7 linked regions of the Homo sapiens genome follow. The protein of the gene in region 1 purifies or fractionates together with the protein of each later gene. This does not show direct contact. Each region holds a gene or a part of one and is shown in the gene's direction. Other genes may lie near its edges.

Region 1 (4,048 bases):
GCCTAAATAAATGAAAATTTTGCCAGGTTTCAATAAAGCATTTTGCCATTGGTCCTTTTAGGAATGGAAGACATCGTAAAAGGAGCTCAAGAACTTGATAACGTAATCAAGCAAGGATACTTGGAGAAGAAAAGCAAAGGTATTGGTCAGACCCACAGATTTCAGAACATTCCAGGAAGGGAAGGGAAGTGAGGAAAAAGAAGGCTAACACATTGGATGCCTTCTCTGTGCCCGGTACTGTGCTAGGCGGATACAAGGCAAAAGCAAAGCAAGGAAAGGAAAGGAGTCTGGTGTTTTCGTGTAGGCTAAAGAGAGATGTCCCAGCCTTGAGCAGACTGTAAGCTTCATCAGGATAGGGATGGTTATGTCCTGCTCACCTCTGTATCCCCAATGCCTGGTATGTGACAGGTGCTTGATAAAACTTGTTGAATCCATGAATGGTGTTCTTGTCCTCATCTCTCAGTGTGCTCCCACTGTGTAGTTTTTGTATCATATGTGAAGCAGTCTACTTTCAAATTTCAGATAAACCCAACTCTTTTGTTTTTTGTTTTTGTTATTGTTGTTGTTGTTGTTTGAGACAGAGTCTCACTCTGTAGTGCAGTGGGTGTGAACCTGGCACACTGCAACCTCCACCTCCTGGTTCAAGCGATTCTGCTGTCTCAGCCTCCTGAGTAACTGGGACTACAGGTGCGTGCCACCATGCCCAGCTAATTTTTCATATTTTTAGCAGAGACAGGATTTCATCATGTTGGCCAGGCTGGTCTTAAATTCCTGGCCTCAAGTGATCTGCCCGCCTCAGCCTCCCAAAGTACTGGGATTACAGGCATGAGCCACCACACCCGGCCTTTTTTTTTTCTTTCTTTCTTTTTTTGTTTTAAGATAGGATCTCCCTCTATTACCAAGGCTGGAATACAGTAGCGCCATCATAGCTCACTGCAGCCTCCAATCCTGGGCTCAAGCAATGCTCCCACTTCAGCCTGTCAAAGAGCTGAGACAACAGGTGCACACAACTGTGCCTGGCTATTTTATTATTTTTTTATAGAGACAAGGTCTCACTTTGTTGCCCAGGCTGGTCTCAAACTCCTGGCTTTAAGCATACTTCCCATCTCAGCCTCCCAAAGTGCTGGGATTACAGATGTGAGCCACCACTTCTGCCTTCAAACCCAACTCTTGACCTTTAACTCATTTAATTAGAGTAGGTACCACTAGAGTTGGCATCTCAGGTTTAACACTCAACAGGCAAATTGGCTCAGCACCAAAACAAAGGCTCTTTCATGGCCAAGGCCTGGAGAATCATTTTGCTTTGTCAAAGGCAACACATAAAGATATAATGGAGAGTTTGAAAATGTACAGGATGAGATTAGAACCCGAAAGATATAAAGGAGTCTAGATAAAAAGACAGCTGTGGGGGCACAGAGCAGGCAACCCTGTTTAGAACTTGGACCTTTGACTGAGCTAGTCCCCTGGACCCTGAGTCAATATGGGATAACCTGTGGGAGTGAAAAGGAGGGTTTTACAGTCCATTAACCTGGGAAATAAAACAATAACACACTGGACTGTATGTTGTTGGATTTTACAGACTCTTCAATGATGGTAGTTACCTGAATTTATGTCCCCTACTGCTGTTCTGTTTAGATCATAGTTTCTTTGGATCGGAGTGGCAGAAGCGATGGTGTGTTGTCAGCAGAGGTCTCTTCTACTACTATGCTAATGAGAAGAGTAAGTGTTCTTCATTTACACAGCAGCATCTCACTCCTGGATGCAAACACTTCGTAAATTCTCAAGCACTTAGATCCCAAGATAGCAGTCCTTAACTAACACCCATAAAGGGACATGCTTAGGAAAGAAATTGGCATGGACAAATAATACCTTGCCCATCACCGAAAAAGCAGAACCCAATTTAGAAATTATTTCACCTTTAAACACTAAGAGTGTGGTCAGCACATCAAATGGTTATCTTTTATGATGATTAACAACACATTATCAAAGTTGAATGTTTTGGTTTTTAAAAAAAATAAAAAGAACTTCAAACTCTTTACAGGCATCAATACCATAGCTAAAAATTGAAATAAATTAATTCTGAGAAAGACTTAAAGAACTTAAACAATGGCCCAGAAATAGAACCCCCTAAGGGCATGCTCCCTGCTTTATCTTCATGACTGCTAGTAAGTAAGTAGTCCAGTGGACATTCCTATAGCCATGGAATATTGAGACCCAAATGGTTGCTGTACCCAAGGCATGCCCTTCAGCCAGATGACAGCAGCAGTGAAGTGTTGACTCGGGCCAGAGATAGTTTCTTAATGAGCCACCACTGACTTAATCAAGTCAACACTCATGAGCTAACCCTAGAAGACCTCCCATCCATGTTTAATGTAATTGATTGGTTTATGAAAAGAAATAGAGGATATAAGCACAATTGGAGGCAATTACAAATAAAGACAAGCTAAAAATTATTATTATAGATGAATGCAAACTTTCGAATAGGGGATACTCTTCTACAGAGTTGGACTGCCCCAGGAGTAATTCTAAGACGCAAGAGGGAGACAAAGTTTAAAAAGCATCAATTCTTCTTGGGGCTTTCCTTGTACTGTGCACCTTCGTACAGAGGCCAGCGATACAGTTTGAGTAGACTCTTCTTTTTCCTTGCAATCATTTTCTGTTTCTCCTTCCTCAAACTTAGTGCTTTCCCAGTGCCTGGATATCCAATATAGGGAATAATCAGACACCCACCCAGTTGCCTTTGTACTTCCTGCACCTGTGGCACTAAGGTAGTGGAAAGAACTGCAGCTTTGGGCCAGGCACAGTGGCTCACGCCTGTAATCCCAGCACTTTGGGAGGCCAAGGCAGGCAGATCATGAGGTCAGGAGTTCAAGACCAACCTGGCCAACATAGTGAAACCCCGTCTCTACTACTAAAAATACAAAAATTAGCCAGGCATGGTGGCATGTGCCTGTAGGCTGAGGCAGGAGAATTGCTTGAACCCAGGAGGTGGAGGTTGTGGTGAGCCGAGATCACGCCACTGCACTCCACCCTGGGCAACAGAGCGAGACTCTGTCTCAACCATAAATAAATAAATAAATAAATAAATAAATAAATAAATAAATAAAAACTGCAGCTTTGCTAAGTGACTTGAAATCCTTAAGATTTGCCCAAGCAATTGTCTCACACTGCCTGCAGTAGTTATCACAGACCTTTGCCTACCTTTCACCATCCTAGATTCCTCAGAACATTTCGCATCTAGGGGCAAAGGCTAAAGCCCTGTTTGGGAAGGATAACAGCATAGTTTGTAAACTGAGCTACAAGTCCTCTGTGTCCTTCCAACCCCCAGCCCACTCTCCAACCCAGCAACCACAATTTCTCCTCTAAATTATAGGCATTCAATCCAGCCAGTTGTTCTTTTCTTATTTTAAAACTTCAAACTAATATGACACTTCTCACTGTAAATATGTTCATCATTTATTTTGCATTTAAATAAGTGGTTGGCATATCTAGATATAAAACCAGGTGTGTCACATCTGTTCATTCAGAATCTTCCATACTCACGGTGAGAGAGGAGCAGGGAGAGCAAGAGCAAGAGACTCGGAAGCTTTTATTGACCATTTTGCCATTAGGGTGAAATAAAATCTGGTGACCAAAGAAACAACAAAACATTTTAGTGGCCAGTTAGAACAAGGAGAGATACTTTAACAAAAAAGATTCTGGTGTCAAAAAGCACTGTTCCATGGCTCCCTTCTCGCCAGTTATTTCTTACTGTGCCCATGACATTTTCTTAGTAAGAATAGTGTTTGTGTATTTCTTTTAGCTCAACCAGGTGAGCACAGTCTTTTTTCTTCTTCTTTCTTTTTTAATATTGGCATCGCACTGCCATCCTTGTCATCATTATCATCATCAAAAGGCATTTATTAAGCAATTCATTTCACATGATATAGAGCTCAAAGCATCCCAGACACTGTGGTTCCTGTTCTCTGTGTGTTCTGCCTGACCCACACAATGAGGATACAAAATTCTTGAGAGTCACCTCCTCTTTTTCTGTTTCTAACATTTTTTT
Region 2 (4,048 bases), on another chromosome or scaffold:
TTTTGAAATCAGAATTTGTGAGTCCTCTAACTTTGTCTTTTTCTAGATTGGTTATTCTTTGTTTATGGTATTTCCATATGAATTTTTAGGATCAGATTTTATTTCTGCAAAAAAGGTATCTAGGATTTTGGTAGGTAGAATTGCCTTGAATATGCAGAGGAGTGTGGGAAGCATTGCCATATTAACAATATTAAGTCTTCTGCTCCATGACTGTGAGATGTCTTTTGGTTTATTTTTGTCTTAATTTCTTTCAACAATATTTTATTATTTTAAGAGTATAAGTTTGTACTTCTTTTGTTAAATTTATTTCTAAGTATTTTATTCTTTTTTATCCTATTATAAATTGAATTACTTTCTTTATTTCATTTTTTGTTTGTTTATTGCTAGTGTGTAGAATACAACTGATGTTTGTATATTGGCTTTTATCTTGCAATCTTGCTTAACTCGATTACTAGTTCTAAGAGTTTTTTAGTGGATTCCTTAGGACTTTTGATATATAAGACTGGGTCATCTGCAAATTGAGATAGTTTTACTTCTTTCTTTGCAACCTAAATTCATTTTATTTCTTTTTGTACCCTAACTGCACTGGCTAAAACCTCCAGTGTAATGTTGAATTGAAGTGGTTAGAGTGGACATCCTTGTCTCATTCTTTTAAAAAATAATTAGTTAAATTTTTTTTCTTTTGTAAAATATATAGGCGGGGGTCTCACTATGTTGTGCAGTCTGGGCTCCAACTCCTGAGCTTAAGTGGCCCTCCCTTCAGTCTCCCAAAGTGTGGGATTATAGGAATGAGCCTTCGTGCCTGGCCTCTTGTCTTGTTCTTCATTTTAGGGGAAAACATTCAGTTCTTTACTTTTAAGTGTGATCTGGGTTATGATTTTTAATAGATGCCCTTTATTAGGTTGAGAAGTTTCATTTTTTTTTAGCTTTTTAAAAATCGATACATAATAGGTGTACATGTTTTCAGGGTTCATGTGATCATTCCATACATTAATATAATCAGATCAGGGCTGTTGATATACCCATCATCACCTTAAATATTTACCATTTCTCTGTTCTAGGAACATTCCAATTATTCCCTGCTAACTATTTTGAAATGTACAGCCTTTTGATGTTAGCTATAGTCACCGTACTGATCTACTGAACAACAATTCTTATTTCTTCCATCTAAGCGTATGTTTGTACCCACTAATCAACCTCTCTTCATCTCTCCTCCCCCTACCCTTCCCAGCCTCTGGTAACCAGCAGTCTGCTCTCTATCTTCATGAGATCTACTTTGTTAGCTTCCACATCTGAGTCAGAATATGTGATATTTGTCTTTCTGTGCTTGGCTTCTTTCATGTAACATAATGTCCTCCAGTGACATCCATATTGTTGCAAATGACAGGAATTTATTCTTTGCCCAGCTAATTTTTTATGGCTGAATAATATTCCTCTCTCTCTGTCTCGCTCTCTCTCTCTCTCTCTCTCTCTCTCTATATATATATATATATGGATGTTTCAAAAACAACTGCAATGTGACATATATATATATATATATATATATATATATATATATATATATATATATATATACAGGGTCTCAGTCTTTTGCCTAGATTGGAGTGCAGTGGCATGATCATAGCTCATTCCAGCCTGGATGGAACTCCTGCACTCAAGTGATCTTTGCACCTCAGACTCCCAAGTAGCTGGTACTAGGGGTGTGTGCCACCATGCCCGGCTAATTTTTGTATTTTTTGGTAGAGACAGGGTCTTACTCTGTCACCCAGGCTGTTCTTGAACTCGTGGCCTCAAGTGATCCTCCTGCTTGGCCTCCAAAGTGTTGGGATTTATAGGCATGAGCCACTGTGCGTGAACACATTTTCTTTATCCATTCATCCTTTGATGGACACTTGGGTTTATTCCATATTTCCGCTGTTGTCAATAGTGCTGCAGTAACCATGGGAGTGCACATATCTCTTCGTGATTGATTTTCTTCTTTCTTGGATATCTACCCAGCTGTGGAATTGCTGGATCATATGGTATTATTATTATTATTATTATTATTTTTTTTTTTTTGAGATGGAGTCTTGCTCTGTTACCCATGCTGGAGTGCAGTGGCACGATCTCAGCTCACTGCAGCCTCCGCCTCCCGGGTTCAAGCAGTTCTCCTGCCTCAGTCTCCTGAGTAGCCGGGATTACATATATGTGCCACCACACCTGGCTAATTTTTGTATTTTCAGTAGAGACGGGGTTTCACCATGTTGGCCAGGCTGGTCTTGAACTCCTGACTTCAGGTGATCTACTCGCCTTGACCTCCCAAAGTGCTGAGATTACAGGTGTGAGCCACCGTGCCCAGCCTTTAGTGTAACTTTTATTGAAAAAAAATTCCACGTATAAGTGGATCCATGCAGTTCAGAACTTTGTTGTTCAAGGGTCAATGTAACTTTGAACTTGTCTCTCACTTTTAAGACATTAAATAATTTTAAATTCTAATGACAAATTTAATTTTAAGTGTATTGATTTAAGGCATTACATTACAACTTTTGACAATAATAATAGTAAACTGCCAGACATTTCCAAGTTTCATGGCAATATCGTCCTTGAAATTGTATTGAAAAGCAGGGAAAAATAAGTTTAGCTACTATACCGTCTCAGTTACTTGCTTTAAACATTATTTTGCAAAACAGTACTTTTGCAAAACAATTAACATGGTTTATGATGGGCTACAAAAAAAGGACAAATTAACTTCTGAAAATGATTCAACAGAAGCTAGACTTAATAAGGAGGTAATTGAATCACTGCATCAGCCAGATGAAGTATGAAATGTGAGTTTTTTTAGGTATTCTGTGCGATTTAAGGCTTAGCAGAATTAAAGGTAGTGACAAGTAGAAACTATCTGATATATCAATGACTAATAACAATGTTGATAATTTTGATAGGTGATTTTTATTTTGTGTCAAGTACTGTTCTAACATCTTTACATATGGGCCAAGGATTGGATTGTCAAATCAGACTGACATGAAGTGGAGATGTTAATCAATATTAAGCTTTCCTTATAATTTCAAGAATACAAGCAATCAAAAGGCTCAGAAAAAGCAGAGACATGTCTGGGACATTGAGAGAGGCCCCCGGATCCTTTCTTACTGCAATAGACAAAACTCTGTGGCCCAAAGCAGTAGATGAGGTCCTTAATGAAATATATGAGTTATTAGCAGGGAGTGTTACAGGCTGTGAAACATCTCCGTTTTATACCCAGATAGTTGCAAAGCTCATGCCCTGTGCCCAGTGCTCCATGTCCCATAAATCTTGAGATTCTCAGTTTGTTTATCATAGTAATCCTAATTCAGGGGCAGTCTGCTAACAGCTTTTTATGGGTAAATAGTCTTTTTTTAAATTATTAAGCAAACACTGTTAGTATTTTTGCCAGCTATTGGTGTGCTTACAAGGAGGTTTGACCAGATTTTTTACCTTCTTTTTTTTTTTTTTTTTTTTTTTTTGTGAGAGAGCCTCTCACCCAATAGGAGAAAAACACTGCTTTAACTCTTTCTCCCCAACAAATTAACTCATTTAAATTCAATTAATTTTTTTAGCATAAACAAGATAAAATATATCAAGAAGGAATTTAAAACATTGAAACATCAGATCGGTTTCTAAAAAATCTTTTATTTTTAGTTTGGTTAGTAGGCATTGGGGAGAGAAATGCACTGAGAAGTATATAGTAAATATAAATATTTTCCTATTACCAACAGATATTCACAATAGCAATTTATTTTATTAACTTTCTTGTGTGTATGTGTCTGCACAGTTAATAGACAATTCTTTTTTCTATTTCACATTAGAAGATTTGAGAAATCATATGATTCTTTTAATGTTTAATTATTTCTTCTTTCTCAACCCAACCTTCAAATCAGAATGGAGATCCAGTTCGCCCAGGAGTAGCTATGACTGATCTTGCCACTGGCCTGTATGCATATGGAGCTATTATGGCTGGATTGATACAAAAATACAAAACTGGGAAAGGACTGTTCATTGATTGTAACCTACTGTCATCCCAGGTAACAATCCA
Region 3 (4,048 bases), on another chromosome or scaffold:
CAGCCACAGATTCAGACCCTGTTCTTACAGGAGTACTAACCATTTTGTATCATTAACGTAATTTGTATCAAATTTCCCACTTCCCGCTTCTCTTGCCCCTGTACCTGCCCACTCAATTTTGAAATTCCCTTCCACATGTGAGTACAGGCAAATACACACAAGTTTTGTGTGTGTTAGGCCACCACACAGTGGCTTCAGGGACATTTTTGTCTTATGCAGTTGCTCAGGGCCACACACTCAGAAGGCCCTGGGATTGGGTTAATGATCTGTTGTTGCCTTCTTGAAACTCATAATATTTTTTTACAAAAGGGATCATACTTTTTTTTTTTTTTTTTTTTTTTTTTTTTGCATTGGCTTTCTTAAATAAAGCAGCTGTCCTGGACAGATGCCCACTCAGCAGAGACCCAGACTCTAGTTAGGGACAGTTCACAAGACAATGCCTGCCTGCTTCTTCTCAGGTCAGTTCTAGAGATTTACATTTTAATAGTACATACATTTTCTTTAAAGCATTTCCCCATATCTGGTGATGAGATACTGATTTAAATATAATTTTTTATAAGAGCAGTAGTCTATAAATATATAGGAATCTGGGAATAGTTAACTGTTACTCGCTTCTTAGGTACTAAGTCAAGTTTGGAATATTTTTAAAAATCACATTTAACAGATTTCATAATGTAAATGTTGGTGAAAATTTATCAGAAACAAAACTCAATGTGATCCATTCATTAGACACGAAGGAAGCACCCATTAAGTAGTAAGCATAGGGCCATACAAATGGAATAAGGCCTGTCCCTGTTTTCTAAGAGCTCATAATTGGCCTAGAATGACAGATGCTATGAGCAATTATTTCTGCCTAGGGGGCAGAAAGATAGAGTAGGAGAAGAGATTAAATATTATTTAATGATGCAGGACTGCATGGGGGCGGGGTGCTTGGTGTCCATGGAAGACATTGGGAATGCACTGTAGACCAGGATTTGAATTATTACGGATTGGTTAGACTTGTTTTTTGATCCACATTTATTTTACTTTAGGTATAGGGATCACTGTAATGGTGTCTTGCAGTCGGAGAGAGAACTTGGATTCAATCTCAGTTTTATTTTTTTGATTCACATTTTATGATGTTTTGTTCTTCTGTGCTTTTAGCCTCAGCACCCCAATCAGATGAAGGCTCTGATATTGACTCTGAACCAGATTTACCACTAAAGAGGAAACAGCGCAGAAGCCGAACCACCTTCACAGCAGAACAGCTGGAGGAACTGGAGCGTGCTTTTGAGAGAACTCATTACCCTGACATTTATACTAGGGAGGAACTGGCCCAGAGGGCGAAGCTCACCGAGGCCCGAGTACAGGTACTGTTGCCCAAACCTCCGTGTCCTACTTCAGTCCAGACAGGAAACAAACAAGCATCTTCTCATCTAAAACATATGTCAATCCCCCCCAAAAATGTATTAGGAATGGCCCTTTACTAGGGATGCATATTGTTAGGACTTTGATTATTTACTGACAGAATACAACTATATCATTTACGACACACAGAAGTCCACCACTTCATGTGACTAACTCAACTTTTCAGGAATCCTTATTGTACACCAGCACTATATGGACTTTGGGGGTGATACACAAGTAAGAGCAAATAAATTTTGAGTGGTTACTCTGTCCCAGCCACTATTTTAAGTGCTTCACATGAATTAACCCATTGAATCATTATTAAAATCCTAGGTGGGTACCATGATTGCTACTCTCCATTTACAAATAAGGAAACTGAGACTTGGACTATATAAGTAACTACCCAAGGTGGCATAGCTGCAAAGTGAGTCTAGAGATAATTGGATCCCATACGCTTCATCTCTGTGACCTTTCAATTATGAAAATGTGCAAAGGTGCATAACATGAAATTCCTTCATTTAACGATTTTATAATTAAGAAGCATTTCAAGAAATTATATTACTTAAAGAACATGTTGAATTATCTTTTGAACTCTTAGAGGTGCTCTGAACCTTCTGGAAAGGCTACTTAGATGTAATATGTTTCTATAGAGTATAGAATAATGTTTTCATCATTAATGAAGAACTACTTCCTGGAGCTAGTAAAACAGTGTTTGAAAGATGGCAGATATCGTAGGGTATCCTCGAACTCCTCACCACCCTAGAAGTTAAGTCACCTTGTCTGCAAATATTGTGTGTTATTTCCAGATTCTTAATTTGCAGGCTGGGGACTCAGCAGTGGACTAGTCAGTTGACATGGTCCCTAGATTGATCAACACGTTCATAGATGCAGCTAATTAACTCTCCTATTACAGAATTTTACAGAAATAGCCTCTTCCAGGCTGCAGAGCTCAGTCAGAGAGATTGTTTTCTTCAAACTTCCATATGATCATCATAGTGCTAGGAAAGTCAAGGAATGCTAAGATCAATTAAGACAGTTCTCTGAAGGAGTTGCAATCTAAGAAAGGTAAAAAAATAAACATACAAATAATTTAAAAATAACACAGACATGATAAGTGCAGAAAGAGAAAAAGTGCAATGGGAGTTGAGAAGAGGAAAGGATGAGATTTTTTTTTTTTTTTTTTTTTGAGGTGGAGTCTCACTCTGTCACCCAGGCTGGAGTGCAGTGGTACAACCTCAGCTCACTGCAACCTCTGCCTCCTGGGTTCAAGCGATTCTCCTGACTCAGTCTCCCAAGTAGCTGGGATTACAGGTGCTTGCCACCAGGCCCGGCTCATTTTTGTATTTTTAGTAGAGATGGGGTTTCACCATGTTGGTCAGGCTGGTCTCGAACTCCTGACCTCGTGATCTGGCCGCCTTGGCCTCCCAAAGTGCTGGGATTACAGGTATGAGCCACCATGCCCAACCTTTTTTTAAAAAATTATACTTTAAGTTCTGGGATATATGTGCAGAAGGGGCAGGTTTGTTACATAGGTATAACACGTGCCATGGTGGTTTGCTGCACCCATCAACCCGTCATCTACATTAGGTATTTCTCCTAATGCTATCCCTCCCCTAGCCCCCCACCCCCCAACAGGCCCTGGTGTGTGATTTTCCCCTCCCTGTGTCCATGTGTTCTCATTGTTCAACTCTCACTCATGAGTGAGAACATGCAGTGTTTGGTTTTCTGTTCCTGTGTTAGTTTACTGAGAATGATGGTTTCCAGGTTCATCCATGTCCCTGCAAAGGACATGAACTCAAGGGATGAGATCTTGAAGGAATGAAGAGAGGTACATGAAGAAGGCAGATTTAATTTTTTTTTTTTTTGAGACAGGGTCTCATTCTGTAGCCCAGGTTGGAGTACAGTGGTACAATCACAGCTCACTGAAGCCTACACCTCCTGAGCTCAGGTGATCCTCCCACCTCAGCCTCCCAGATAGTTGGGGCTACAGGTGCATGCCACTATGCCTGGATAATTTTTTGAAGAGATGGGATTTTGCCATGTTGCCCAGGCTCTTCTTGAACTCCCAGGTGCAAGCGATCCACTTGCCTTGGCTTCCCAAAGTGCTGGGATTATAGGCATGAGCCATTGTGCTGGGCCCAGAGGGCAGATTTAAGATGAACTTTCCGGGCTAGATAGATATTCACTGGACCAGGTGCATAAGGAGAGTATATTAGTAATAGGGAATTATATGAGCAGAGGCACAGAGAGGTAGAAGTGGTGGGCTACACGTAAGATAACCTTTCTTTTTCACTCTAGTCATATTGGGAGAATAGTTAGTTTGATTAGAATGTAAGGAGTGGTAGGGTGGTGGAAGAAATAGGGTTTGGTAGGTAGGCTGAGGATATCCTATGGAGGTCTTGGGTTTCAGGCCAGTGAGCTCACATTTGATGTGACAGGGAGTGGGGGCTATGGCATGAGATAGGTAGTGGCAGTGGGAATGGCAAGGAAGAGATGGTGGTGAAGGTATTCAGAGGTAGAATGGACAACCGATTGTGTAATCTAGAAGTGGGGAGGAAGGTGAGTGAAAGGAAGAGTTGTAGATAGACCAAGGTTCACAGAGCTGGTGTTTTAAAGTTGGGAAACCTATTATCATTGGGAAACAGAGTGTTTCTCCCCACCA
Region 4 (4,048 bases), on another chromosome or scaffold:
AGTAGGGAAACGGTTGCTAAGGTGGGGCTTCTGGGTAATGTGTTTACGTTAAGCAGGACAAGGAAGAAAGGTAATGTTGGTCGAGTATTGGGATGTGTGGCAAACACATACAGCTTTGGACTAATCATGTCTTTTTTTTTTTTTTTTTTTTTTTAAAAGACAGAGTCTTGCTCTGTCAACCAGGCTGGAGTACAGTGGCACAATCTCAGCTCACTGCGACCTCTGCCTCCCAGGTTCAGGTGATTCTCGTGTCTCAGCCTCCCGAGTAGCTGGGATTACAGGTGTGTGTCACGACGCCCAGCTAATTTTTGTATTTTTAGTAGACATGGGCTTTTGCCATGTTGGCCAGGCTGGTCTCAAACTCCTAGCCTCAAGTGGTCTGCCTGCCTCAGCCTCCCAGAGTACTGGGATTACAGGCATGAGCCACCTCACCTGGCCAAATTGTGTCTTATTTTCATGTGAAACCAGCTAGAAAAATGAGTGTGCAGCTCTGAAGAAAGGCCTGACTGAGGTCAGAATTTTGAGAACTTGCTGTTAACGTTCTTTGTACTAGATGGATAAGACTGAGAAGGGTTTATTATTTTAAAATAGAACAAAAAAGTATGTTACATGTATTTCTCTTAGCCTAAATTCAGAGCACTATTACTAGGAAGTACTTACTGGAGCTTTAAAAAGCTTGTCTTAGGGCCAGGCATGGTGGTTCACACCTGTAATCTCAGCATTTTGGGAGGCCAAGGCCGGCGGATCACTTGAGGCCAGGAGTTCAAGACCAGCCTGGCCATCATGGTGAAACTCTCTCTACTAAAAATACAAAAAATAGCCGGGCATGGTGGCGTGTGCCTGTAATCCCAGCTACTCAGTAGGCAGGAGAATCACTTTGAGCCGGGGAAGCGGAGGTTGCAGTGAGCCAAGATCACATCATTACACTCCAACCTGGATGACAGAGCAAGACTCAGTCTCAAAAAAAAAAAAAAAAAAAAAAAAGTTGTCTTAGGACAAATAAAAGTAAAAGGCAGTTCTTAACACACAACACATTAAAAAACAATAACAACAGAAAACCAGGTACTCTGATAGGTAGCATAGACTGGGAATTTAAACAGAAATAGATAAGTCTATATATGGATGATGGCTTCCTTAGTGAACATTAAGGGTGTTCAGCCAGAACCCCTGGAGAGTGACCTATGAGAGTACAGCCTTTCCCTCACATACTCTGGGTTTTCTTTTTAATAACTTAAATATTTTACATCCTCTAATTAATACTATTATGTTTGGCTGAATGTAGTCAGGAGACAGGTGCAACAGAGTAATAGAAGGGAGGTGTAAACTGAGGCGAAGATGCCCATTTTTCATCTCTTGCAGTGTAGCTGCATTTGTGTGCAGATCTCTAACTGAAACACCAGATGGCACCACTGACCAGCATTTGACTAGCCATTCGGCCATGGCCCTCTGTGTACAGGCAGTAAAGAAAACTGATAATCTCAGTAGAACCAGGGGGAAGAAATCTTGCCTTGACATGAACGATGTGGTACACCCTGGTATACAAATTTTGGGCATTGTCACTGAGCTCCTGAGTTCATATTTTCCTTTCTCTCTGTTTCTCACAGAACTTTCACTCAAGGATACAGGGTCAAAATAAATGGAAATATTTCTTTGCTTAGACGTGGGTATAACAAGTTTTAGTTCTTTAAATAATTGGTTGTGGTATCCTTCTGAGCAAACTATCACAAGGACAGAAAACCAAACACCGCATGTTCTTACTCATAGGTGGGAGCTTAACCATGAGAACACTTGGACATAGGGCGTGGAACATCACATACTGGGGCCTGTTGTGGGGTTGGGGGAGAGGGGAGGGATAGCATTAGGAGATATACTTAATGTAAATGACGAGTTAATGGGCGCAACACACCAACATGGCACATGCATACATGTGTAACAAACCTGCACATTGTGCACATGTACCCTAGAACTTAAAGTGTAATAAAAAAAAAAAAAAGAAAAATATTCACCTCCAAAAAAAAATTAATTGGTTGTGGTAGATGTTCAAAATATTTTACTTTTAATAACCCTTGAAACTTCACATGTCTAGAAAACTCCTCGTGTTGTTGGCTATTGGGTGAAATTGACCTGCAGATTATCTAGCCCTAGTATAGTGAGCAGGATGGTGATAGAGAGGCAACCAGGCATGCGCCAGACCCAGCCAGAACCTCAGGCCCCACCAGCTGTGAAGGACCACTGAATAAAGCCATACTTGTGAGGCGGTGTACAGTACCATGCACTGCACTGTGCAGTGCGAGCAATCCCTTTGTATAAAGTATAGTAACCCTTTGTGATATGTGTGGTAGTTACGTTTTCCCAGTTTGCTTTTTGTCTTACAATTTTGCTTATGGTATTTTCATCATATGGTAGTGTAAACTTTTAAAAATTACTAAATTCTTTATTTCTCAGCTTCAGAGTTTTATCCCAGGCTTAGAAAAGCCTTCTTCACTTTAGGACTACAAGAATATTCATATCTGTTTTTTTTCCTAGAACATTTACAATTTTGTTTTTTACTTTTACATTTTTTTCCATCTTGAAAGTTCGTGTAAAAGAATGAGGTAGACATTCGGCTTTATGTTTTTCCAGAGCTGGACCATGTAAAGATGTGAACTCATAATCCCTAAGGAGCCTTTGACACAGCTGGAATAAGAGTTAGATGTACTGAGATTGGGGTGCAGTCTCCTCTGCACATTAGAGCGCTAAATTGAAGACGTTCAGATGCGAGATGGTTCTGTGACTCTAAGACATACAGTTCAGGGCTAGGAAGGTTACAGAGAAAGTAGAGGAGTTGAGACTTGAAGTTGTCCTTGAATGACCTTGACAATTTTGATGGAGGAAAGGACAAGGAAGTGTTGAGGCAGAACAGCTTCAGCAGAAGTGTGGATGTAGGAATAAGCAGAGTGATCAGCCAGTGTGAGCTTGGCATTGCTGTTGTCTTTTAAGACCTTGGTATGTATCAGGCTTTGCTCTGATTGTATTTTGTCTTCATCATGACCGTATGAGGTATGGACTATATCATTTTGCCATTTTACAGAACAGGAAACTGCCACAGGGGGCAGTCAATTAAGGTGTCTGATGTTTCAGAACTAATTAGGTGGTAGGGCTGGGATTTGAACCAAGGGAGAATAGTTCTGGAGCCTGAGAGAACTGTAGCCTTGCTAAAGTGAATGCACTTGGCAGTGTGATGTTGAGTTGGACATTACCTTTAGGAAAATGGGAGGATTTGTGTTTTGGTGAAGAAGTCAGGATTGAAGAGGTCTGGCTTCTTCTAGCTGGTCCCTTCATCGTTATTGCCTATAACCTCTGTCCTGGAAAACAATTAATAAACATACTGCAGAAATTAATGCTTTTCTTATAGTGGAATTGATATTTGCTTTCTCTGCGAAAATATATTTCCACTGCATTCTTTGTTGATTTACAATATAATAAAACGTAACAAACAAACTTATTATCCTAAAATCAGAAAAGCTCATCCAGATTGATTTTAATTAAAAATGTAAGGGAAAGCATTTTTAGCACTGTGCCTAGCACATAGCAGATGTTCAGTGTGTTTCTTTCCTTAGTTCTGCAAATCTTGCCCTTCTCCTGAAAGTCTACATGGCATGAGTTTTAAAGTAGACACTACAGTCATGAGTCATTTAACAATGGGGGCATATTCTGAGAAATGCGTCATTAGGAGATTTCATTTTTGTGTGAACGTCACTGTGTGAACTTACACAAACCTACTTGGTATAGCCTAATACATACCTAGGTTACAGAACTGTACAGTGTGTTACTTTACTGAATACTGCAGGCATTTGTAACACAGTGCTAAGTATTTGTATATCTAAACAAAGAAAATGTACAGTAAAAATACAGTATTATCTCATGGGACCACAGTTGTATGTGCCATCCACTGTTGACTGAAACATCATCATGCAGCACGGGACTGTACTTATGAAATATTCTTTCAGTAAAGATTTCAAGTACTTGATATGCTTTAAACAACAGCAGGAGTTTGTTCTTGATTTAT
Region 5 (4,048 bases), on another chromosome or scaffold:
CAGCCTTGGACTCCTGGGCTCAAGCAGTCCTCCTGCCTCAGACTCCCTAGTAGCTAGGAATACAGGCTCGTGCCACCACGCCTAGCTAAGTTTTTTGCAATTTTTTTTCTAGAGGGGTCTCGCTATGTTGCCCAGGCTTGTCTCAAACTCCTGGCCTCAAGCAATCCTCTTGTCTCAGCCTCCCAAAGGGCTAGGATTACAGGCATGAGCCACTGTACCCAGCCTAAATTAGTCTTGTAATTATATATTAAGTTAAATGCTACTAGTAGGATGATTCAAGAGATTAGACACTATTTTCTCATTCTAATTAGATGCTTTGCTTTTCTATAGCTCCTACAAGTCAAATTGTAGGCGTTTGTACATATAAGTACAAAATAAAGATATTTCTACATAAAAAGATTATTTACTCTATTAATGGAAATTATATTGACAGTCTTACACAATAGTGTTTATATTTTAGTTCTTCAGTAAATATTTGATTGGAGTCTAAACTTTTAGAAAGGCCTTAATTAGCCCTTGTGTCCTGTTAAGCATTGCCTTCCTGATAGATGAAATCCCGGCTTAGGTACATAATCTCTTTTAGAAGTCTTCAGACATCTAAAACATCAGTTAACTCCTTTAGTCTACAAACTTTTCCATTTACATTCCATGTTAGGATAAAGAAGCAAATCATAAGAGGAAAAAAATTTTTCTGAGTATGTTTCTCAGATATTACAGAAGTGGTCAAAGACTAGATTTCAGTGCTCTGTCATTTACTGACTATGTGGCCTTGACCAAGTCATTTAAACATTTTGGTTCATAGTTTTCATGTCTCTAAAGTGATTTTTTGTGGATAAAATTTGAGTAGTAGGATAAAAATGTTTAAAAAACAAAAGTTCTATATAAATGTAAGGTATTATTTGTATAAGTTATTTCATTCCAGCATCTATAATCCCATGAAAATAGAATGAATATTCTTACCAATACTTTGGAAACAAAATTCTCCAGTGAAGAATTATGATGGTTGGTATAGGCTAGTTACACAGAAAATCTATTATGTATTTTAGAACATTTTTAAGAATAAGCATCTAAAGATAAGATTTCTGGTGACCATTTTATTCACTGGGTCATCCTATTAACATGAATATAAAATTTCCTAAGTATTTCTATTTCTAAAAGTTCAAATGCCCAATGGGCATGTATATGGAAAGCCTTTTGTATAGTGTCTAGCTATTAGCCACATGGATATTTTGAAAATTACAAAATTCCATAAAAGAGAAAATAATTTACTATTATTTGTTTTAGAAAAACTTCTATAGTCTGGCCTGTTAAAATATCAAAACATTGTTTCAGAATTTAAGCAATGAGTAACATCGATAGTTATGTGATTCTCTTTGGCAAGTTGGGATCATTTTAAACAAATCATCTTCTGGCTTATATATTCCAGAATATGTGTTGTGTGATATATTTATCAGTTGTATTCATCCTCAATTTACCGGTGAAAAACAATGTAGGCTTTTTCCAGATTTTTTGTTATCTACTATTAGGATTTTTTAAGAAGTGCCTACGTATTGAGTAGAAGTAAAATTTCAGTATGAGGTAGTTTTAGTTGTTTAACTTGGTAAATTTCAGTATGTTTGAAACTTTTAGTTATACTTTTTAAATTTCAGTGTGTTTGAAGAAACTGACACAGATTTACAAGAGCTGCAGGCCTCGATGGAACAGTTACTTAGGGAACAACCTGGTGAAGAATACAGTGAAGAAGAAGAGTCAGTCTTGAAGAACAGTGATGTGGAGCCAACTGCAAATGGGACAGATGTGGCAGATGAAGATGACAATCCCAGCAGTGAAAGTGCCCTGAACGAAGAATGGCACTCAGGTGCATGATCAGAGTTTTGGACCTTTTTCTTTTTCAGTTTACAAATATTTCAAGTAGAGTGTATTTTTCTAATCTCTGCTGTGAACCATTTCCAACTTTAAATACAACTGAAGCATGCCTCTGGGTCTCTCCCCTTTTTTCATTCTTTTTCTTTTCATACAAATGTGTGATTTTCCATTTTTTATTAAAGTTTTTATTTCTTTCCTATTATGTCAATGCTTTTTTGAAGCATTTTTATTCTAATCTCCATTTATTGACTGATTTTTCCAGTAATAAAGATAATAACATTGTTTTCTTGGCATTCTATATTTTAGAAAGAGCTTCTGCATATATTAACCAGCAGAGTTAACACTGAAAGCAGTTTTTAAAGTACTAAAAACTCTTTTCGTAAATTTGTAAACTTTCTCTTTCATAATATTACCCCTAAGATGCATAGAAAGTGTGTCTGTTTCAATAACTATATGATATTAATTTAGGAAGAAAAGCTAATGTGAAAAGACTAAGTAATTTTTTTCAAAGTATGTCGAGCACGTACATGACAAAACATATTGGCCATTTATACTTTCTAGGTGCTTTCCTGAAATGTAATGATGTATGTCTTAGGTTGTCTACCTTTTGCAGGCTTTTCCATGGTGTTTCCCGTGTTTATTACCAACTTTTGAAAATACTAGTTAGGGTTAGCTGCTTCAAAGCAAAACATGGAGGTGTGCTTTTTCCACTTTTTTTTTTTTATTTAAGTAACATCTCTAGGAGTGTTTTGATTCCAACCTGATTTATTTTTTATATCTATACATGAAAAGTAACATTCTTGTTTAGACAGATTTATACATTTTTTTTGCCAAATAAAGGACAAATATTAAAATGACAAAAACTGTTTATAATGAAAGTAGAAGTAGTCTATTTCAATGGCATTATTCATTTGTCATAGAATTTTAGTCTATTAGGGTATGAGTTATTCAGTCTTTTTAAATCAAATCTCTATTTTAATTTTGTTTTTTAGATAACAGTGATGGTGAAATTGCTAGTGAATGTGAATGCGATAGTGTCTTTAACCATTTAGAGGAACTGAGACTTCATCTGGAGCAGGAAATGGGCTTTGAAAAATTCTTTGAGGTTTATGAGAAAATAAAGGTAAGTGAAAAGTCAATTAAAACACTTAAAATGTGCTATGTTTGAAGGTTGAAGAAATGTTGATAATCTGTATTGGTCATTAGATTTATTATAAATAAAAAGTGAAGTCTGCAATTACAGAAAGTTATTCAAATATTAATTTATATTTGGGAATTTGGTATAGGCTATTCATGAAGATGAAGATGAAAATATTGAAATTTGTTCAAAAATAGTTCAAAATATTTTGGGAAATGAACATCAGCATCTTTATGCCAAGATTCTTCATTTAGTCATGGCAGATGGAGCCTACCAAGAAGGTAAGATTTCCTCACATGTCTGTATAATTTTCAGTAAATGTGAGAAAAACAAGATGATACATGTATATGAATCAGCTTACATCACATCCATTTTGTGAAATCTACTTGGGAACTATATAACTTTTAAGCAATAATAAAATTAACTTTGTCATGTACTTTTACTGATCTGTCATATACTTTTACTGACTTAAGTCCTTTAAGTCCATATTTTTAATTTAATTTACAAGTAACCTTTGAATGAGGTTTTTAAAAATCTTACTAGATAGATTTTTGGACAGCTCTAGCAATTAGAATAATCCTAGCCGGGTGCCGTGGTTTATGCTTGTGATTCCAGCTACTTGGGAGGCTTAAGTGGGAGGATGGCTTGAGGCCAGGAGTTTGAGACCAGCCTGGACAACATAGTGAAACCCTATCTCTACACACAAAAAAATTTTTAATTAGCTAGGCATAGTGGTGGGCACCTCTAGTCCCAGCTACTCAGGGGACTGAGGTGGGAGGATTGCTTGAGCCCAGGAGTTTGAAGCTGCAGTGAGCTGTGATTGTGCTACTGCACTCAGCCTTGGTGACAAAGCCAGACCCTGTCTCAAAAAAGTAAATAAATAAAAATAAAGAAGATTATAACTTAGAATAATTCATTTTTTTTTGTTTTTTTTGAGACAGAGTCTTATTGCCCAGGCTGGAGTGCAGTGTCGTGATCTCGGCTCATTGCAACCTCCACCCCCTGGGCTCAAGTGATTCTCCTGCCTCAGCCTCCCAAATAGCT
Region 6 (4,048 bases), on another chromosome or scaffold:
AAAAAGCATGAGCCGCACTCTTGAGCTCCCTCCCTATATAGGTGGTCCTGGGAGGCCTGCCCTGGTGTCTGCTCCTGGAAGGCAGACACTGCACGTCTACCTGACTCGCGCTCTGACCCTTTCGCAGGAAAACACGTGGTGCAAGCACAGAAGCTGGCGGACGTGGACAGTGAGCTGGCTGCCATGCTACTGACCCATGCCCGGCAGGGCAAGGGGCCCCAGGACGTCAGCCGCGAGTCGGATGCCACCCGCAGGCGTAAGCTGGAGCGGATGAGGTCTGTGCGCCTGCAGGAGGCCGGGGGAGACTTGGGCCGGCGCGGGACGAGCGTGTTGGTAAGGGTTTGTTCAGCTGTCACTGTCCTGGGATCTCCATGCAGACTGAGTCACTGTGCACATCCTTTCCCTGCCTCCCACATGATTCTCTCTTACCTTCCTCCCAAATCCTGGGGACAGAATATAAGAAAATCGGACTTTTTCAGCCACCGGGGGAAATCTTTAAGTGAGAATTATCTGGAGAGCTTTTAATAAAAGCCAGTTCTTGGGCGTCACCCCTGGAGATTCTGATACTGATTGGTGTGGGCAGGACCCCTGGAGCCTGGGTTTGAAGAAAGCTTTGCAGGTGATTCTGAGGCTCTCCCAGGTCTGGGGACCAGAGCTGTGAACAACTGACATATCCTGGGTTGTCAATGTAATCATTCTGGCTAGAAAAATTCCCCTTTTTGGCTGAAAATCTAAATAGAACTTTTAATATTTTGCTACTAAGAAATGGGAGGTGAGAATGGTTGTACCTCCTGGGTTCATAGAAGTCGGGAACCACAGGGGCCTTGAGAAAGATCTCCTGAGATTCCCCCTTGCATGTAGGTAGGCCGGGGTCTGAACAGAGGTGGCCCTTTTCCTGACAGTAAACTCAGCAGGGCTGCCACTCAGCCTCCCTGCCAGCAAGGCGTTGGTGCTCAAAGGTGGATGCAGACGCCTCGGTCCCTCCCTAGGCTCAGTTCAGTCTGATGGGGCGAGGAAGAGGCATGGTGAGAAGACACGGGGTGAGGAGGCCTGGCCTGATCCCACAGGACTGGTGGGCTCAGTGGTCAGGGAGGAGGGAGGGACTAGAGGGAGGCCAGGGCAGGGCCAGGGCATGACTGGGGCCTCCTCCCAGGCCTCAGGACACCCACCCCACCTCCCTCCCTCCCTTCCTCCCTCCCTCCCAGCTGGCAGGGCTTGAAGCTGTGGCCTCTGGAGGCCCCTAGCCTGGATAACCTTAGCTCTGTCAGCATAAGCTTGGAATTGAGGAGCCACTCTCAGCCCTATCCCTGTTTCTCATCCTAACTCATGTCTGGCCCCATCGTCCAGCACAGCCTGTCAGAGGTTCCACTCCTGAAAAGCTCTGAGGATGAAATTCTGATGGAGGCCCCAAGTGTGAAAGGCCAGCTCCAATCCCCCTGCAAAGGAACAGCCAGAGCCTTGGATGTTGGAAAGTGAATGTCCAAAGTCATTTAAGCCAGAAATCAAATTTTGTCCTCACCTTTTGAGTTAAATCCTGAAAGCACTGAAGTCAGCCCATCTCTCTGACGCCTCAGCCTCCTCTGTGTTAGACAGAAGGTTCCCAGCGCCCGGCCGCAGCGGCTTCTTGGAGTAGCTGCAGGCTGGCTGACTCCCCGGCATGGGGGTGGCCCCTTCCAGGCCTGAGATCTTGCAAGGCAGCCTCTAGTGGGCCTTACTTTTTCTTGTAAGTCCCACAGGAAAAACAGGCCAGTCTCCAACCTGTAGAACCCATGTGTGCTGGCCAAGCCCCTTGAGTCCCTGCGGCATCAGAGCAAGGGGGTGGCTGAGCCTTGCTGAGGCAGCGTGCTGCTTGCCTGGACTCTGACCCGGTGTGACCGAGACTCAGCAGGCCGGGGGCATGTCCTCTCCTGTGGACGCTGGGCCCAGGCAGGGCTCCCAAAGTTGTGTTGGGGACCTGGCTGGTGAGGCCTGTCACCATAGTTTTGAGGCCATTCTTTTCTCTTGTTTGAAACTTCTGATTCTCCACCGTGCGGGGGGCCAGACTCGTGTCTGTGAAGAGTCTCTCAGGAATAGGCAGGGATGCTGTGTGGACCTCCGTGTCAGGGACACAGCCAGCAGATCTCTGTCCAGCACTGCCTGAGATCCATGCCTGGGCGGGGCCGGCCAGTTCCACCCAGACCACATGGTCAAGGAAGGGGGTGGTGGTGGCGATGCTTGTGGAGAAATGTCCTCTTCTGAGATCGCGGGTGGTGGGCAGCCAGCAATAGCCCCTTGTGGAGGAGAGTGTGCCTGGGACCCTGTCCACCCATGTCCTCTTGTCTGCAGGCGCAGCAGAGCGTCCGCACACAGCACTTGCGGGACCTACAGGTCATCGCCGCCTACCGGGAACGCACGAAGGCCGAGAGCATCGCCAGCCTGCTGAGCCTGGCCATCACCACGGAGCACACGCTCCACGCCACGCTGGGGGTCGCCGAGTTCTTTGAGTTTGTGCTTAAGAACCCCCACAACACACAGCACACGGTGACTGTGGAGATCGACAACCCCGAGCTCAGGTGAGGTCTCAGTGGTGCCCGTCCTGCCCCAGCCCAGATCTGTGTCGGGTGCAGCCGGCACCCCTGCTGAGCTGGCTCGAATTCTGCCCGAGAGCCGGGGCGATTTGACTTCTCTCTCCCACTCCTCTGAGCACCGCTCTCGGTGGGTGGGACCGCAGCCTCCTGTGGGTCCTCCTGGGAAGAACTGCCCTGACGCCTGGACACTGCCTCCCCCAGCGTCATCGTGGACAGTCAGGAGTGGAGGGACTTCAAGGGTGCTGCTGGCCTGCACACACCGGTGGAGGAGGACATGTTCCACCTGCGTGGCAGCCTGGCCCCCCAGCTCTACCTGCGCCCCCACGAGACCGCCCACGTCCCCTTCAAGTTCCAGAGCTTCTCTGCAGGGCAGCTGGCCATGGTGCAGGTGCGGGTGTCAGGCACACAGGGAAGTTGCATTTGGCTGATGACGGTGGGAAATTGAGAATGCTTCCAGTCTCCACCAGTGTCCCTCCCTTACCTGTGCAGACAGACTAGCCTTGGGGCTGCCGCCCACTCCCCTTGGTGCTCAACAAGAGCCCTGGCATGTACACTGCAAGTGGCAACCAGCCCCTTCTCTTTTCCAGCCTGATGGGTGTCGAGCTGGACCATCTCCTCCTAATTTTCTTTACTAAGTTGGTTGGAAGGGCTTCTTAAAGCCCAGTGAATCTAATGGATTGACGTTTTCTAGCATCTTCTTTCCAGTTAATGTTGTTTGGTCCCTTCCGACTGCAGCACTGTCTGCTCTATGCAAGATGCAGCTTTGCAGGCATGTGTGCGGGGAGCATGCGTGCAGGGAGCATGTGTGCAGGGAGCGTGCGTGCAGCAGGTATATGTGCAAGAGGTATGTGTGCAGGATGTATGTGAGGTGTGTGTGCAGGGGCGATATGTGAGGTGTGTGTGCAGGAGGCATGTATGCAGGGTGTGTGTGAGGCACGCGTGCAGGAGTTGTGCGTGTAGGGGTCTGTGAGATGTGCAGGGAGTGTGTGAGGTGTGTGCAGACATGCAGTTGTGTGTGTGCAGGGAGTATGTGAGGTGTGTGTGCAGGTGTGCACTTGTGTGCAGGGGGTGGTGTGTGAGGTGTGCCTGCAGGGGGTGTGTCATGCCCGGGTGCGTGAGGCCGGCATGGGGTGTGGAGTGTGTGTTTCAGCTTTTGACCTTTTGGGGTCAGCTCTCTAGGGTGGTGGTCATCGCTTAAGGTGGACTTGAGATGTCCCTAGAGGCTCACTCACAGGATGCCATGCTGGCTCTTGGGATGGGCTGTGAGGACTGCAGGTGGGACCTCAGGCCTTTGGCTTCAGGCAGAGCCGGGTTTCCACCTGGGATCTGCTGTTCCCTTTGTTCCTGGCAGCCTCAGCCTTCTCTGGCACAGTGAGGCCGGTTGGTGATGGTTGCTGCCTGGAGAGTCAGTGTGAGAGGAGGCTGGTGGCTCCCAGCTGGGTGGCAGTGGTGTCTCTAAGCACAGGTGCTGGTCGCCTAAT
Region 7 (4,824 bases), 5.5 Mb from region 1:
GTTTTACACAATCACAACGGGCAGGATGGTGTTCACGTGCGACAGTTCTCGCGGTTTAATATCGGTCAGCAAAGCTGTCCCCACCGCTCCAGCCTGGAGTCTAGGGTCGAGAAGGGCGGGGCGTGGCGAGGAGGTCTCAAGGGAGGTGCTGGCCTGACGGCCCCGCCCGTCCCGCCCTTCCCCGCCCCTCCCCGCCCAGCCCAGCCCTGCCCAGGCTAGCAGTCCTCAGAGCCTCCCGCAGCAGCGGCGAAAAGGGGTCCCCCACGGCCTCTAGGGGCCAGGATCCAGGGAAGGCCCGGAGACGGCGCCGATCCTCAAAGGGTCCCACACGCCAGCCACTGGGGACCGACCTGGAACCCTCCATCCAAGATCTCTGGAATCGCCGCTGAGTCAGCAACGCGCGCGCGCGCCCGCGGAGGCCGCGGCCCCGCCCCGGCCGCCTAGCGCCTGAGTTAACCCCTTCCTATACAGAGCCGCAGGATATTAGCCCTAAGAGGCCTCCACTGTATTCGGAGACCACAGAATTCCTTAGAATCCAAGTCAGTCTCCCCAGCTGAGTTCGGTGAGCTGTGAGCTCTATATTCGATTTTATTTCCGGCCTAGGTCTGCACCTTCCCAGAGTGCCTGCCTCAACTCCTTCACCTCGAAAAGGAGGTGAGGCCGAGTGCAGTGGCTCATACCTGTAATCCCAGCACTTTGGGAAGCCAAGCTGGGAGGATCGCTTGAGCCCAGGAGTTAAAGACCAGCCTGGGCAACATAGTGAGACTCCATTTCTACAAAAAATAAATTTAAAAAATTAGCCAGGCATGGTGGTGTACGCCTGTAGTCCCAGCTCCTGGAGAGGCTGAGGTGGGAGGATCCCTTGAGCCGAGGAGTTCGAGGCTGTAGTAAGCTATAATGGCTCCACCGCACCCCAGCCTGGGCAAGACAGCGAGACCCTGTCTGGAAGAAAAAAAAAAAAGGGTGGGGGAGAGCTGAATCAGACCGAGAAACTGGAGAAACTGGACTCCTTCTCCCCAGACGTGGAGGGCCACCTCCAGAGCTGTGTCCTCGCAGGTCTGGACATCCTCTTAGTAGCCAAGGCGTTTCCCTTTCTCAGGGACCCTGAGACGAGACAGGGGTTCAGAGAGCGGCAGTTGGGTTTTCCTCTGTCCTGTGCCAAAACTCCTCAACAGGGTTTTTAATTGGTTGGTGAGCCAAGAGTTAAAACAAGAGCCTGAAGGCGGGCTTCCGTGACGTCACTAGCACCCCGCGTCCGACCTCAGAGACTGGGGCGTGGCTAACATAGCCTCGTCCCCTCCCTCCCTGTTTCCCCGCCCCTCCCCGCTGTCACCAAGCCAGGGGCACATGATGCAACCCAACGCGGTTTCAGCCGTCTGATTGGTAGCCGCGCCCGGCGCCAGGCACAGGGATTGGACAGAGGAGACTGTGACGAAACCTGGACCCTGCCTAGTAAAGAAGGGAGGAGAGAAAGAAGAGAGAGGGGGGGCCCCCCGGGAGGGAGGGGGCCGGGGGGGCGGGGTCCCAGCTCTGTGCTCGCGCCCCCAGCGCGCCAGTCCCGGGGCTGCAGGGAGCGCAGCGCGCGCGGCCCGGGCCCCGGCCACCGGACGCCCTACCGGACACGACCCTCCCTGGAGCTTGGACAACTGCCCACCTCGGACGCTGCACCGGACACTGCCCCCCACAGGGCTGGACACTCCAACGGACACTACTTCCCAGCTCCGGACATTGCTCCCTCCTCTCCCGGGGCCCTGGACGCTTTTCCCCCTCCCCCCTCCGGGGGCCCAGACACTGAGCCCCCCTCAGCGTCTGGCTAGCGTCCCCTTGCACCCCAGCCCAGGACACTGCCTCCTCCCTGTCCTCTTCTCCCTTCTGCTCCTCCCACCTCATCTTTCCCCTGCTCGGGTCGGAGCCCCGCCAGTTCCTCCGACCCCCTACTGCTCGGCCGCGGCTGCCCGCGCCCCCATCCGCAGCTCCTCGCCCGGATGCCTCTCCCCGGGGGACTATGGTGGCTTCTCTGCTGCCGTCGAGGCTTCACTCTTCTGCACCGGGACTACGGGGACGGCGAGCTTAGCGGGGACGGGGACGAGGACGAGGACGAGGAAACCTTTGAGCTGCGGACCCCGAGTCCAGCGGGCGGCGGGAGGGTAAGTCCCGGGGGTTCGGAGCCTCGTCTCAATCACTCTCGCTGTAACCGGCCGTCACGCTGATCCGCTCCAGCCTCCAGCCACACGCTGCGCGCTTGGCGAACTAGGGATGAGGGAGAGTTTTTTGCCTGGGGGCCAAAGCCCCCGGGAGCTCTCGGAGCAGCAGCCCTACTCGGGATGTGCCTGTGGGCCTCCCGCTGCAGGCTGGGCGCTATCCACCTGCTGGGGGCCCTGAGGCAGGGGAGGCGTCACGCGTGGCCCGACCTGGCCCTGCCTCTCCCTTCCCCGCTGGGCCCGCGTCCCATCCCGTCTCCTTCCGCCTCCGCCAGCGCCGAGGAATGTGGCGAGGCCGGCTGGGCGGCTCGAACGCCTGGGTCCCCCTCCGCTCCCAGTTCGCAAGTGCGGAGGCCAGATGCGAGAGCTCCCGCTGCGGAGACCTGGACGAGGGGGAGAAGTCATCCCAGGATTGGGGTCTGTGGCGGGGACCCCAAGGAGAGGGAGGTGGGAGCTCTTTGAGGACCCCTCCTCATTACCCTGCCACTCAGGACAGAACTCTCGGCTTTCCCGGGTGAGGCTCCTGGGAAACCCCTGAGGGGATGGATGGTGAGGGACACTGGGCTGCTGCCTGGTTTTGTCGAATCTCCCCGTGGGGAAACGGAGGCACGATTGGTGTGGGAGACCTCCATCCCTTGACGTCTCCTCCCCCATCCCTCCTGCACACTGGCGGCCAGACTCCCGTGTGCTGTGGCCCGGGTCAGGCTCCCATCCCCCGCGCAGGGGTCCCCAGCAGGCCCAGTGGCTCGGTGCCCGGGTGGGGCGGGCTGCGCCGCCGGGGCCGGCGCCAGCACCTGGCGGAGGCGGAGGGTGGATAAATATAGAGGAGGGGGGAGGGAGGGAAGCAGGGCACTGCGATTAGGGGAGTTAGCCTAAGAGGGTGGTCAGTACCTGCCACATGTGGTGTGGCTGACAGCCCCACTCAGACCTTCCAGAAAATAGGTGGAGGTTCACGTAGGAAGGGTGCAGGACCCAGGCGTCCCCAAGCTTCCAGCTTGGGCAGGGTCGGCTTTACCAGGCCATTGCCTCCCTCATGCTCCACCTCAACTCCCCCCTTCCCTGAGCCTGGGGACAGGTGTCCCTGGCCCCCTCCCCCACCTCCCCCTCTTGGCTCTAGCAGTCTGGGAGCAATATGAGGATGGCACGGTTCCCGCCTGACTGGCCTCCGGGTTGGGTTTGTGGCCTCTCTCAGACCCCAGTCTACAGTTGAAGTTCCAGGACAGGGGGAAGGGAGGAGGAGGGGGAGGGGGAGGGCAAAACCCTGAACTACACCTGCCTCCAGAGGGTGTGCCATTCCTCAGTCTGGCCCGCCCTTCCTAAGCCCCAGCAAAGGGGCAGGGTCTCTGCTCACCATTGAGTCTCAGGAGTGTCTATGGGAGAATGTAAGACGCTTTTGGAGAAAGCCCTATACTGAAAGGGTCCCTCTGCCCTTCATTCACCTCTGTGCCTACCACCTGTCCTGCCTTGGCCAGGGAGGCAGTGTGGAAGAAGGGAAAATGAGGAGGAGAGGGTGCCTTGGAGCCTGGCAGAACGAGCTCACCTCTCCTGTTTCAAAGATGGGGAAACTAAGGCCCGGAGACGGGAAGAGACTTGCCCAAGGTTCCACAGTGAGTTAGTGGTGGGGCGGGAATTGGAACCCAGGTCTCCTGACTCTCTGCCCAGTGCTCTTTCCACCCTACCCTACCCCTGATTGTATTTTCAAAGGGTAACTGAGAGGAGCCTTGGCTCCTTAGCTCCTGCTGTTCTGAAGAGCTTGTCCTGTTAAGACTGGCGGGAGGGGCGAGCCCAGGGGCTCCAGCGTGCTCCACCCTAGTCACGACCCCACTCTGTGACTCCTCCTTCCTCAATCCCCTGAGCAGCCCTGTCCTGAGGGCAGAAGGCACGAACCTTGCGCAGGAAGGGCTCTGACCCTGAGGGCTTCCCCGCCTGTCTCCCCAGGGTCCCCTGGAAGTGACGCTGACTCAGCCAGTGAGGAGCGGGCCTGTCTCCAACAGGTGAGCTACGCCCCTACGTCCCATAGTCTGGCGACCCCAGCATGTTCCCGGGACCCCCATCCTCTCTGTCTCCCCTAGCGGTTGTGCAATAAGGGAGAGGCCCTATGCCGGACGCTGTGGTTTGGCTGGGGTCCCGGGGGGCGGTCCGGCTGGGGGCGCGGGGAGAAAGAGGGGGGTCGGGGCTATTTCTGGTTCGAGGTCAGAATGGCCCAGCGGTTCCCACAGCCTGGGGGAGGGGTGCCCAGCTTGGGAGCAGACACCCGTGCGGTCTGGGGAGCCCCTACAGAGGAGCCCCCTAGAGGCAGAGTGGAGACCCAACCTTCCCTCCCCTCTGGCCCAGGCTGCAGAGCTGGGAGGAGACTTGGAGCCTCATCCCGGAGAAAGGGCTGCCGGAGGACGACCCGGACATCGTTGTGAAAGGTAGAGACCCCCCTCAGTGCACTCTGGAGGCCCCCAATCCCAACCCCCTAGGGATTAATGTCTCTACTGATGTCCCTTCCCTCCCTCTCCGGCCCCCAGGTTGGCTGTACCGGGAGCCCCGCGGAGGAGGGGCGCGGCCCTGGCTGCCCCCGCGCCGAGCCTGGTTTGTGCTCACGCGGGACTCCCTGGATCAGTTCAGCAGCAGCGGG

Evidence for each region.
Region 2: the proteins of SKAP1 (region 1) and SUGCT purify together in Homo sapiens (affinity purification with mass spectrometry; 3 studies listed by BioGRID and IntAct, with this or other methods). This does not show direct contact.
Region 3: the proteins of SKAP1 (region 1) and PAX3 purify together in Homo sapiens (affinity purification with mass spectrometry; 3 studies listed by BioGRID and IntAct, with this or other methods). This does not show direct contact.
Region 4: the proteins of SKAP1 (region 1) and TTF2 purify together in Homo sapiens (affinity purification with mass spectrometry; 3 studies listed by BioGRID and IntAct, with this or other methods). This does not show direct contact.
Region 5: the proteins of SKAP1 (region 1) and NEK1 purify together in Homo sapiens (affinity purification with mass spectrometry; 3 studies listed by BioGRID and IntAct, with this or other methods). This does not show direct contact.
Region 6: the proteins of SKAP1 (region 1) and NPHP4 purify together in Homo sapiens (affinity purification with mass spectrometry; 3 studies listed by BioGRID and IntAct, with this or other methods). This does not show direct contact.
Region 7: the proteins of SKAP1 (region 1) and PLEKHH3 purify together in Homo sapiens (affinity purification with mass spectrometry; 3 studies listed by BioGRID and IntAct, with this or other methods). This does not show direct contact.

Annotation. Positions count from the first base shown.
Region 1 is NC_000017.11:48,185,514-48,189,561, reverse strand, and holds part of SKAP1 (src kinase-associated phosphoprotein 1), read left to right. Parts: intron 1-61; coding exon 62-139; intron 140-1,635; coding exon 1,636-1,719; intron 1,720-4,048. UniProt on the Homo sapiens protein: Positively regulates T-cell receptor signaling by enhancing the MAP kinase pathway. Required for optimal conjugation between T-cells and antigen-presenting cells by promoting the clustering of integrin ITGAL on the surface of T-cells.
Region 2 is NC_000007.14:40,270,620-40,274,667, forward strand, and holds part of SUGCT (succinyl-CoA:glutarate CoA-transferase), read left to right. Parts: intron 1-3,893; coding exon 3,894-4,037; intron 4,038-4,048. UniProt on the Homo sapiens protein: Coenzyme A (CoA) transferase that reversibly catalyzes the transfer of a CoA moiety from a dicarboxyl-CoA to a dicarboxylate in a metabolite recycling process.
Region 3 is NC_000002.12:222,229,379-222,233,426, reverse strand, and holds part of PAX3 (paired box protein Pax-3), read left to right. Parts: intron 1-1,143; coding exon 1,144-1,349; intron 1,350-4,048. UniProt on the Homo sapiens protein: Transcription factor that may regulate cell proliferation, migration and apoptosis. Involved in neural development and myogenesis. Transcriptional activator of MITF, acting synergistically with SOX10.
Region 4 is NC_000001.11:117,066,565-117,070,612, forward strand, and holds part of TTF2 (transcription termination factor 2), read left to right. Parts: intron 1-4,048. UniProt on the Homo sapiens protein: DsDNA-dependent ATPase which acts as a transcription termination factor by coupling ATP hydrolysis with removal of RNA polymerase II from the DNA template. May contribute to mitotic transcription repression. May also be involved in pre-mRNA splicing.
Region 5 is NC_000004.12:169,399,462-169,403,509, reverse strand, and holds part of NEK1 (serine/threonine-protein kinase Nek1), read left to right. Parts: intron 1-1,649; coding exon 1,650-1,858; intron 1,859-2,858; coding exon 2,859-2,989; intron 2,990-3,152; coding exon 3,153-3,285; intron 3,286-4,048. UniProt on the Homo sapiens protein: Phosphorylates serines and threonines, but also appears to possess tyrosine kinase activity. Involved in DNA damage checkpoint control and for proper DNA damage repair.
Region 6 is NC_000001.11:5,873,378-5,877,425, reverse strand, and holds part of NPHP4 (nephrocystin-4), read left to right. Parts: intron 1-127; coding exon 128-333; intron 334-902; coding exon of another isoform or gene 903-905; exon of another isoform or gene 906-2,311; intron 2,312-2,325; coding exon 2,326-2,552; intron 2,553-2,768; coding exon 2,769-2,955; intron 2,956-4,048. UniProt on the Homo sapiens protein: Involved in the organization of apical junctions; the function is proposed to implicate a NPHP1-4-8 module. Does not seem to be strictly required for ciliogenesis. Required for building functional cilia.
Region 7 is NC_000017.11:42,673,725-42,678,548, reverse strand, and holds the start of PLEKHH3 (pleckstrin homology domain-containing family H member 3 isoform 1 precursor), read left to right. Parts: upstream 1-1,554; 5' UTR 1,555-1,985; coding exon 1,986-2,147; intron 2,148-2,159; exon of another isoform or gene 2,160-2,324; coding exon of another isoform or gene 2,325-2,618; exon of another isoform or gene 2,619-2,648; intron 2,649-3,673; coding exon of another isoform or gene 3,674-3,808; intron 3,809-4,139; coding exon 4,140-4,195; intron 4,196-4,535; coding exon 4,536-4,615; intron 4,616-4,714; coding exon 4,715-4,824.